Homo sapiens: one gene and its partner. The protein of the gene in region 2 purifies or fractionates together with the protein of the main gene of each other region. This does not show direct contact. Each region holds a gene or a part of one and is shown on either strand. Other genes may lie near its edges.

Region 1 (4,476 bases), on a different chromosome or scaffold from region 2:
GTGCCAGCACACTAGTAGAGCTGGGATTTGAACCCAGGTTTGTCTTTTGCACTGGATTCAGCTTCCTTGCAGACCGCAGCACCTCACATACAGCCCTTCACTGACCAGCAATTGGAGGGAAACCACCCCTGTGGCTTAAAACCTGTGGTGCCACAGATCATTCCACTCAGTCAAACCCCCAAGACCGTAGAAGTGCATTTAACACAGCAGCTCCTAGGCACAGGATTGTCACCTCAGGGCATATGACTTCTAAAGTTGCAGATTATAAACTTGTTCTCTTTCCCTGTCCTCAGGCTCCCGCTGAAGTAACCCAGACGCCAGGGATATCTCTGCCCGCTCCACTCTGACTCTAGTGCTCAATGTGCCTGCCAGGCCTTGCTAGGGATGCTGTGCCAGTGTGAAGAGGAAGGTGGTCTCCAGCTCTCACCCCATAGAAGCTTTCTGCCTCAGTTTCCCTAACCTGGAACACCACAATGACTCCTGAATTGAAAAACACTGCTTACAGCATCTAGGCTAAAATTGGCAGAATACCTGGGCTCCAAGCCAGGGAGATTTGGAGCGATGGGGAGGTGCAAGAGCACAGCCAGACAGAGCCAAAAGCAATAATATCCTGTTTGTTCCTACACTGCCCTCCGCATTAAAAAAACAACGACAGCTACATCAAGCCCTTTTGTTAAGTGGCCACAAGCTGTACATTTCTTGGTCCCAGGCAGGTATACTGGGAGTTCAGATCCTGGTCTTAATGCTCTTCTCTGGTTCTGTGACATCCTAGAATGTGAAGAGGAGGCCTTGGGTTCTGTCACTGCCTCCAGCCCGAGCCCCCTGCTCTTCCTGGGCATCCCGGATGGACCATGTCTGCCTTTCTGCTGACTCAGATTTATTTCTGGTCCAGCCATTCACAGCGTCCATGTGTCTGAACTCCTCAGCCAGAGGGCAGGTGGAAGGGCAGGAGGAGGACCACGTGTCAGCTTTCCATCCAGAGAGCCACCCCAAAACAGAGGATGTCCTTGGGCTTGGACCAGCTCCACAGAACACTCTGAACAAATTCTCACGATGCCAGGCTCCTAGGCCGCAGAAAATGCCTGTCTCCTCCCAGTTCTAAGATAGCAAAGGGTGTGCGTTACCTCAAAACCACTTAGTACGCAGCCAACCTTAATGGGCACTCTTGGCATTACTGTTCTACTCAGCAAATAGACAGTCCTAGGCAGGAAGGAGATATTTAGAATCCTACTCTGTAAAACAGAGGCCTTTCCTAGGCCTCCTGTGATGAAGGCATGGGACCGTTACCAGACTTTGTCCCTCAAGGGTAAATTGTTTTCAAGAAAACAGGAAGCTAGGAGCCATCTAGTCCTTTGAAGTGCTGTGAAGTGGGCTGCCTTCTTCCCCGCCCAAGGGAGGGAGTCTCTGAGGCTTCCTGGCAAGGGTTAGTGTGACCTCCAGCAGTCACCTTCAGCATGGGTTGCTGCTGGATTCCTGGCTCTGTGGGCAGGAGCTCCCAGAATGCTTGACACAGACTCTACGTGGCTTCCTTTGGGAAGACAAATGGAGCCTGCTGTAGGCTATGGCAGAGATGGAGGCCCAGGGCCTCTGAGCTAGGGGCAAAGTCAGTCTCCCTCCTGTGTCTGAAACCCCAGGACTCCCCATTCTGTATGGTACTCCCCCCGACCCAACCCACAGTTTCCTTAGGAAAACTGACCTGCCTATGGCCCATTTCCTAATGATATGATTTGGTCATGAGGCTGGCAGAGTCCATGGGGTGCATGTGGCACTCCTGTGCTTTGCTGTGACAGTGCCTTAACCCACAGGCGTGATTAACTCCAAAGTCTGGGGTCTTTGGAAAAGGTGCCTATCAATGCAGAGGAAGTGAAGTGCTCAGACCGCCAAACAAGGCCAAGAGCCTCCCGGAAGAGCCTGCCTGTCAGGAAGTCTCTGGCCACATGCTGTGGCCATGCTCGCCTCTATGAGAGGACAGAGAGAACAGACCAAGGACACGAGTTCAGAACAGAGAAAATGTGAGAGCCGTAGACAGGAAAAGCAGCCCTTCTGGAAACAGCACACTGGTGTACCTAGCGTAACCTTGTCCTGAGGGCCACTAACTGCCCCTCACTTGACTCAGCTGACACTGTGAGGGGTCACGAGCCTGGCAACACTTTCTGGAAGGTCTAAAGGGCAGCACTGAGGAGACCTAAAGGTTTTGGTCTGTTTGTCAAATGTCACTCTTCCTCACATTCGGAGGAGAGCATTTGAAGGCAGACCACTCTAGGGGCAAGAACAGGACTGATTTTAACCCCGGGACAACCAACCAAGCAAGCAAGCTAGTGAAGAACAGGCCTCTGCCCAGGTGAAACACGTGGGGCCAATTCCATAGGTTTTTTTTTTTTTTTTTTTTTTTTTAATTAACCTCCGGTGGGAAAGGTAAGGATGGTGGGGAGGGGAGACGGTTACTTGTCTCATTATCAATGTGTTAGTATTAGTGACGGCAAAACTGAATCTCTAGCAATACTATTTGCCCGTTTAAACTGGGCCTGGCTATTGGGCTTATGAGCAAATAGCTTCTCAAAATTTTAATTTTCTAGTTAGTTCATCCCAAGTCACTGATTTACATGTCTTTTGAGACTGAGACTGCTGGGGAAAAACATTCCCAGAAATGAGTGGATTAGACTCTGTGAATTACAAGGGAAAGACACTTTAAGTTTAAAGTTGTCCCAAACTTAGCGTCAAAATACAGCCTTTAGATTTTTTTTTCCATCGAGAAAAATTCCTGATTCACTACCAAAAAGAGGCCCTGCAGGCAGCGTGCTGATTTGTTCTGCTCCTGGTGCTGAGCTGCCCCCACCTGTGTGCAGGGAGGAGGGGTCGCTTCGGCCAAGGGCGGGAGCTCTGCTGGCTTTAGCGAGTCACCATTGCCTCCTCGCAGTCAGCGTCCTAACGGGGTCCCCGTCTACAGCCCGGCATCCACTCCTCCAAGGCCCTTCACACTGGCTCTAGCCATGACCCCTCTTTGGAGGAATAAAGCAGAGTTTCACGGACTCACCGACCTTGAAGCCGGAGCCTCCCACGTCCTGCTGAGCGCACACAGCCAAGAAGTGTATGCAGGGCGAGCTGGTCGGGCCGGCCTGGAAATCCTCCCTGGCGGGGCGGGGCCAGAGGACCTCACCAATCCCAGCGTAGACCTCCGGGCGCACCGGCCCCCACAGCTGTACCCTTGAAGGCAGGCCCGTGGGCGCTGGGCCCTTTATAGCACCTGCCCTTTCTCTGAAACGTAAAAGGCGGAGCCAGTCTTGCTTCCCAGGCCTGGTCCTGGAGGCTCCTTTGCCAGGGCTCTGGATCTCAGAATGGAAGGGCCAGCAGGTGAAATTGCACATCTGTTGGGGGATTTGTTTCTCTCTTCTCTCAGGTGTACCAGCCTTGGGGCCCTGGTGAGCTCTGGAGGATGAACCCCTCAAGCCAAGGTCGGAGAGGAGGATGTCTCAAGCTGCCTGGCTCCAGCAGCTGACCGGGCCCTGAGCCAGGGGCTGGAGGGACCTCCTTCCAGCGTCTTTGTCTGGGACCTGGATCCAGGGACAATTACAGTCAGGTTTCTGTTCAAGATCAGGCCCCCTGCAGTAGATGGCTAGATCATCTCGCTTTCTGTCCACACCAGCTTAACCCACGGCAGGCCATAGCCCTGCTTAAAAATAGCCCCGCTTGGGATATCCACCGCACGCCGGGAAGGCTGCCTGTAAATAGCAATGACCCAGCAGGATTTTGGACAGCAGCCCTGCCATTTCAAGGGAGCCTGCCTAGGCATCTGGTGACCGTCACGTACTCAGCTTCTGAGGCCACGTGGACATGACCAATTGGTTCCTGTCTCTTCCTTCTCAGAGCCCAGCTCATGCTCAGAGGACTTGATGGAGCAAGGGGTGGAGCCCCAGGAATAACCTTCTACCCAGTGTGGTTCTCCTTCATTCTCTGAAGGAGTTTCCATTTCTTTTAAACACGACCCATGTTTAAAAATATCATCTATTTTACCTTTGCATGGGGTACTGACAGGGAGAGCACGTGAGGGGGCCTTTTGGCGGGATGGGAAGTTTCCTGATTGGGGTGGTTATATAAAGATTGGGACCAATCAAATTAATTTCATAATCCTTTAAGGAGTCAAGACCCACCAGCTTGCATATTCTATCATCAGGGCAGTCTCGGTTTATTCCTTCTCAAAATAGCTCTTTTCCACACACACTTGTTTCAAGTCAGTTCAGGCACCAACTGAAATAAATCCATTGACCCTGAAATAGCCCAGCTCCCAGATCCAGAAAATTATAAGGCTTTTAAAGAGCATGGAATTGTAGATTTAAAGAATGGCAGTTATAGCAAAAACCTCCTTTTCCTCCCCAATTGCCTAATCAACATTTAGGGCCCCCTCCACTCACCCGACCTCAACACCTTATATTTTATAGAGTAAATGTTTATGTTAGTAAGGTCAGAAGAAAAATTGGG
Region 2 (3,812 bases):
TTCTCCAGGTTCATCCATGTTGTGTACTGCAGAATTTCCTTCTTTTTTGAGGCTGAATAATATTACATTGTCTATGTACCACATTTTCTTTACCTGCTCATCTGTCAGTGAACATTTAGGTTGTTTCCATATCTTAGCTATTGTGAATAATGCTACAGTGAACATGGAAGTGCAAATATTTCCTCAAGATAGTGATTTTATTTCCTTTGGATATATACCCTGAAGTAGGATTGCTGGATCATATGGTAGTTCTATTTTTAATTGTTTTTCTTGACCAACATGTTCTAATATATCTTTAATTTTTTTAGGAACCTCCATACTGTTTTCCACAGTAGCTGCACCATTTTACATTTTCACCAACAGTGTACAAGAGTTCTAATTTCTCTACATCCTCACCAATAATTGTTACCTTTCAGTTTTTTGATAATAGTCATCCTAATGGGTGTGAGGTGTTATTTCATTGTAGTTTTGATTTGCATTTCCCAGATGAATAGTGATATTGATATTTATATACCTATTGGCCATTTGTATGTCTTCTTTGGAGAAATGTCTACTCAAGTCCTTTGTCAACTTTTTAATCAGGTTAGGTTTTTCTTTGGGGTTTTTTGTTTTGTTTTGTTTTGTTTGTTTTTGCTTCTTTGCTATTGAGTTGTAGAAGTTCCTTTTAATTATATCTTGGATATTAACCCCTTGTGAGATATACGGTTTGCAAATATTTTCTTCTATTCCATAAGTTGCCTTTTAACTCTGTTGAGTGTTTCCTTTTCTGTGCAGAGGCTTTTTAGCTTGATGTAGTACCAACAACCTATTTTTGCTTTTGTTTCTTATGCTTTTGGTGTCATATCCAAGAAATCATCACCTATCCCAATGTCATGATGCTTTTTCCCTTATGTTTCCTTCTAGGAGCTTTACAGTTTCTGGTCTTAAAAATCTTTAATCCATTTTGAGTTGACTTTTTGTGTATGGTGTAAGATACAGGTCCAATTTCACTCTGATGACAGTTCCAATATTAGGATCTATGGTTCTGTTTAGGCTCTCAGTTGTTTCTACCAGTCTTCCTTTATGGAACTTTGTTTTCTGGGGTACCTGAATTCTTCAGCTGTGTGCAGGTTAATACTACTTTTAAAAAAGTATTTGTGAGCGAGCATCAAGGGTGAAAAACAAGTATTTTCTTTCAGACAACATTTGTGTGTGTTTGCTCCAGGTTCCCTGGAGGCATTGCTACCCAGTGACGATGTGAAACTGGTCAGCAGACTCCGGCTACATAGGTTATGAATTCTCCCAGGGACTGGAGGTGGCCATAGCCTGTTAGGGAGTTTTTTTACTTTCCTTTTTCATCTCCTACACCTCTCATTTCTGCATTCAGACTTTCCCATAAAATGTAGTTTGAATTAATAAATGCCTACTGTCTTTTCAGTACTTTTATGGTAATCTTTTCAAAAGTTTTAATCTAGCTTTTTTTTTTTTTTTTCTTTTTTTGAGACAGGGTCTTGCTCCAACACCCAGGCTGAAGCGCAGTGGCATGATTACGGCTCCCTGCAAATTCTGCCTCCCAGGCTCAAGCGAGTCACCAGACCCGGCTAATTTCTGTATTTTTTATAGAGATGGGGTTTTGCCATGTTGCCCAGGCTGTTCTCAAACTCCTGGGCTCAAGCGATCCTCCTACCTCAGCCTCCCAAAGCGCTGGGATTACAGGTGTGTGCCACTGCGCCAGCATAATCCAGCATTTTTAATTTTCTTAAGTAGAAGGAGATGCTGTCAGCCATTTTAGGAAACCAGATTTTTTGTTTTACTGTTCAGTGAGATTGTCTTTAATTGTGGAATCAAATTTTTATATTTTAGATTCTCCTATCATATCATTTATGTGGTATCCTATTTGATCTTTCCGATTTTTTTCAAAACTGGTTTTCCTAAAAAATGTGTCACAATTTATGTAGAATTTTTTTGTGCCACATTTAAGAATTACAAAGTGTGGGCCGGGTGCAGTGGCTCACGCCTGTAATCCCAACACTTTGGGAGGCTGAGGCGGGCAGATCACAAGGTCAAGAGATCGAGACCATCCTGGCCAACATGGTGAAACCCCGTCTCTACTGAAAATACAAAAATTAGCTGGGCTTGGTGGCACACACCTGCAGTCCCAGCTGCTCGGAAGGCTGAGGTAGGAGAATCGCTTGAACCCGGGAGGCAGAGGTAGCAGTGAGCTGAGATCATGCCACTGCACTCCAGCCTGGTGACAGAGTGAGACTCCGTCTCAAAAAAAAAAAAAAAAAAAAAAGAATTACAAAGTGTGGTCCTCATGTCCACAGTCCCAACTAGTTCCTCCATACTGATGAGAATTAAGTACAAAATAGTAATACATCTCACTGCTGCTTCTGCCTTCTGAGGGACAATATTTTTCAGCAAGTATATAAATATAAACATATAAATAAATAAGTAAATAGTAGATATCCAGTAAGTAAATATCCAGCTTTTAGAAGAGACTCCCTGGTGATAGCTGAATAATTGAAGATTTTCACTACTATAACTTGCTTCTGTGCCATAATCCTTATTAAATGAGTCATCATCCAAATATACAGCACCATGGTGGACTACACTCCTACCTTAGCCCTTGCCTTTGCCACTTTCTTTCTTTTTCTTTTCTTTCCTTTTTTTTTTTTTTTTGAGACAGAGTCTTGCTCTGTCACTCAGGCTGGAGTGCAGTGGCATGATCTCAGCTCACTGCAACCTCTGCCTCCCAGGTTCAAGAGATTCCCCTGCCTCAGCCTCCCAAGTAGCTGGGATTACAGGTGTCTACCACCACGCCTGGCTACATTTTGTATTTTTTAGTAGAAATGGGGTTTCACCATGTTGGCCAGGCTGGTCTTGAACTCCTGACCTCAGGTGATCTGCCCCGCCTGGGCCTCCGAAAGTGCTGGGATTACAGGTGTGAGCCACCATCCCCAGCTGTACTTTCTTTATCCTAAATGCTCTCCTCTGTACTTCATTTTTTGGGTTAATCTTCAAAAATACAAGCACCTACTTTAATACGCATTTGTCTGGGGCTCCCTTCATTGTGTACTTTAGCTCTTCATTTAAATGATCAGTTCCAGCCCATAAAATCTCAGTGATGTTTCTGAGATTCTATTTACCATCTAGTATTAAGCTTCATATATTAATAATATGTAGAGGGAGGCCAAGGCAGGAGGATCACTTGAGCCCAAGAGTTTGAGACCAGCATGGGCAACATGGCAAAACCCCATCTCTACAAAAATGTATGCCAGGCATGGTGGCACACGCCTGTAGTCCCACTTACTCGGGAGGCTGAGGTGGAAGAATCACTTGAATCTGGGAAGCCGAGGCTGCAGTGAGCCATAATCGTGCCATTGCACTCCAGCCTGGGTGACGGAGACCCTGTCTCTAATAATAATAATGATAATAATGTAGATACTTGAGAATGAAAGTAGATGTTTATTTTCTTCCCTGTAAATTTCTGGACACCACGCCTCACCTCCCCTTCCCACTGTACTTTGGTTGTCACACTTGTCATTCATAACATCTCATTTTACAGGCTTTTTTCTGGCCTTTTGACTCAATTACTGTCCAAGTCCTATTAATCATGTTGTTATTTAATTAACCAAACAAATATTTCTAATGTTGCTGAAATGTGTGTCTCCTTTTCCCAGCTATTTGATATTTGTGACTATGAATCTTATAATATCATCTATGTAGCCAGTTTGTTCATTTTTCGTATCCTCTTATCTTCTCTATAGTGATGACTTCCAACTGTAGCAGGGGGAAAAAATACAATATATGTCCCCAAGGCTTTCTATATC

The links.
Region 1: the proteins of AKR1D1 (region 2) and CKMT2 purify together in Homo sapiens (affinity purification with mass spectrometry; one large-scale study listed by BioGRID and IntAct). This does not show direct contact.

Annotation. Positions count from the first base shown.
Region 1 is NC_000005.10:81,231,940-81,236,415, reverse strand, and holds the start of CKMT2 (creatine kinase S-type, mitochondrial precursor), read right to left. Parts: upstream 3,095-4,476; 5' UTR 3,039-3,094; exon of another isoform or gene 3,035-3,038; intron 1-3,034. UniProt on the Homo sapiens protein: Reversibly catalyzes the transfer of phosphate between ATP and various phosphogens (e.g. creatine phosphate).
Region 2 is NC_000007.14:138,082,802-138,086,613, forward strand, and holds part of AKR1D1 (aldo-keto reductase family 1 member D1), read left to right. Parts: intron 1-3,812.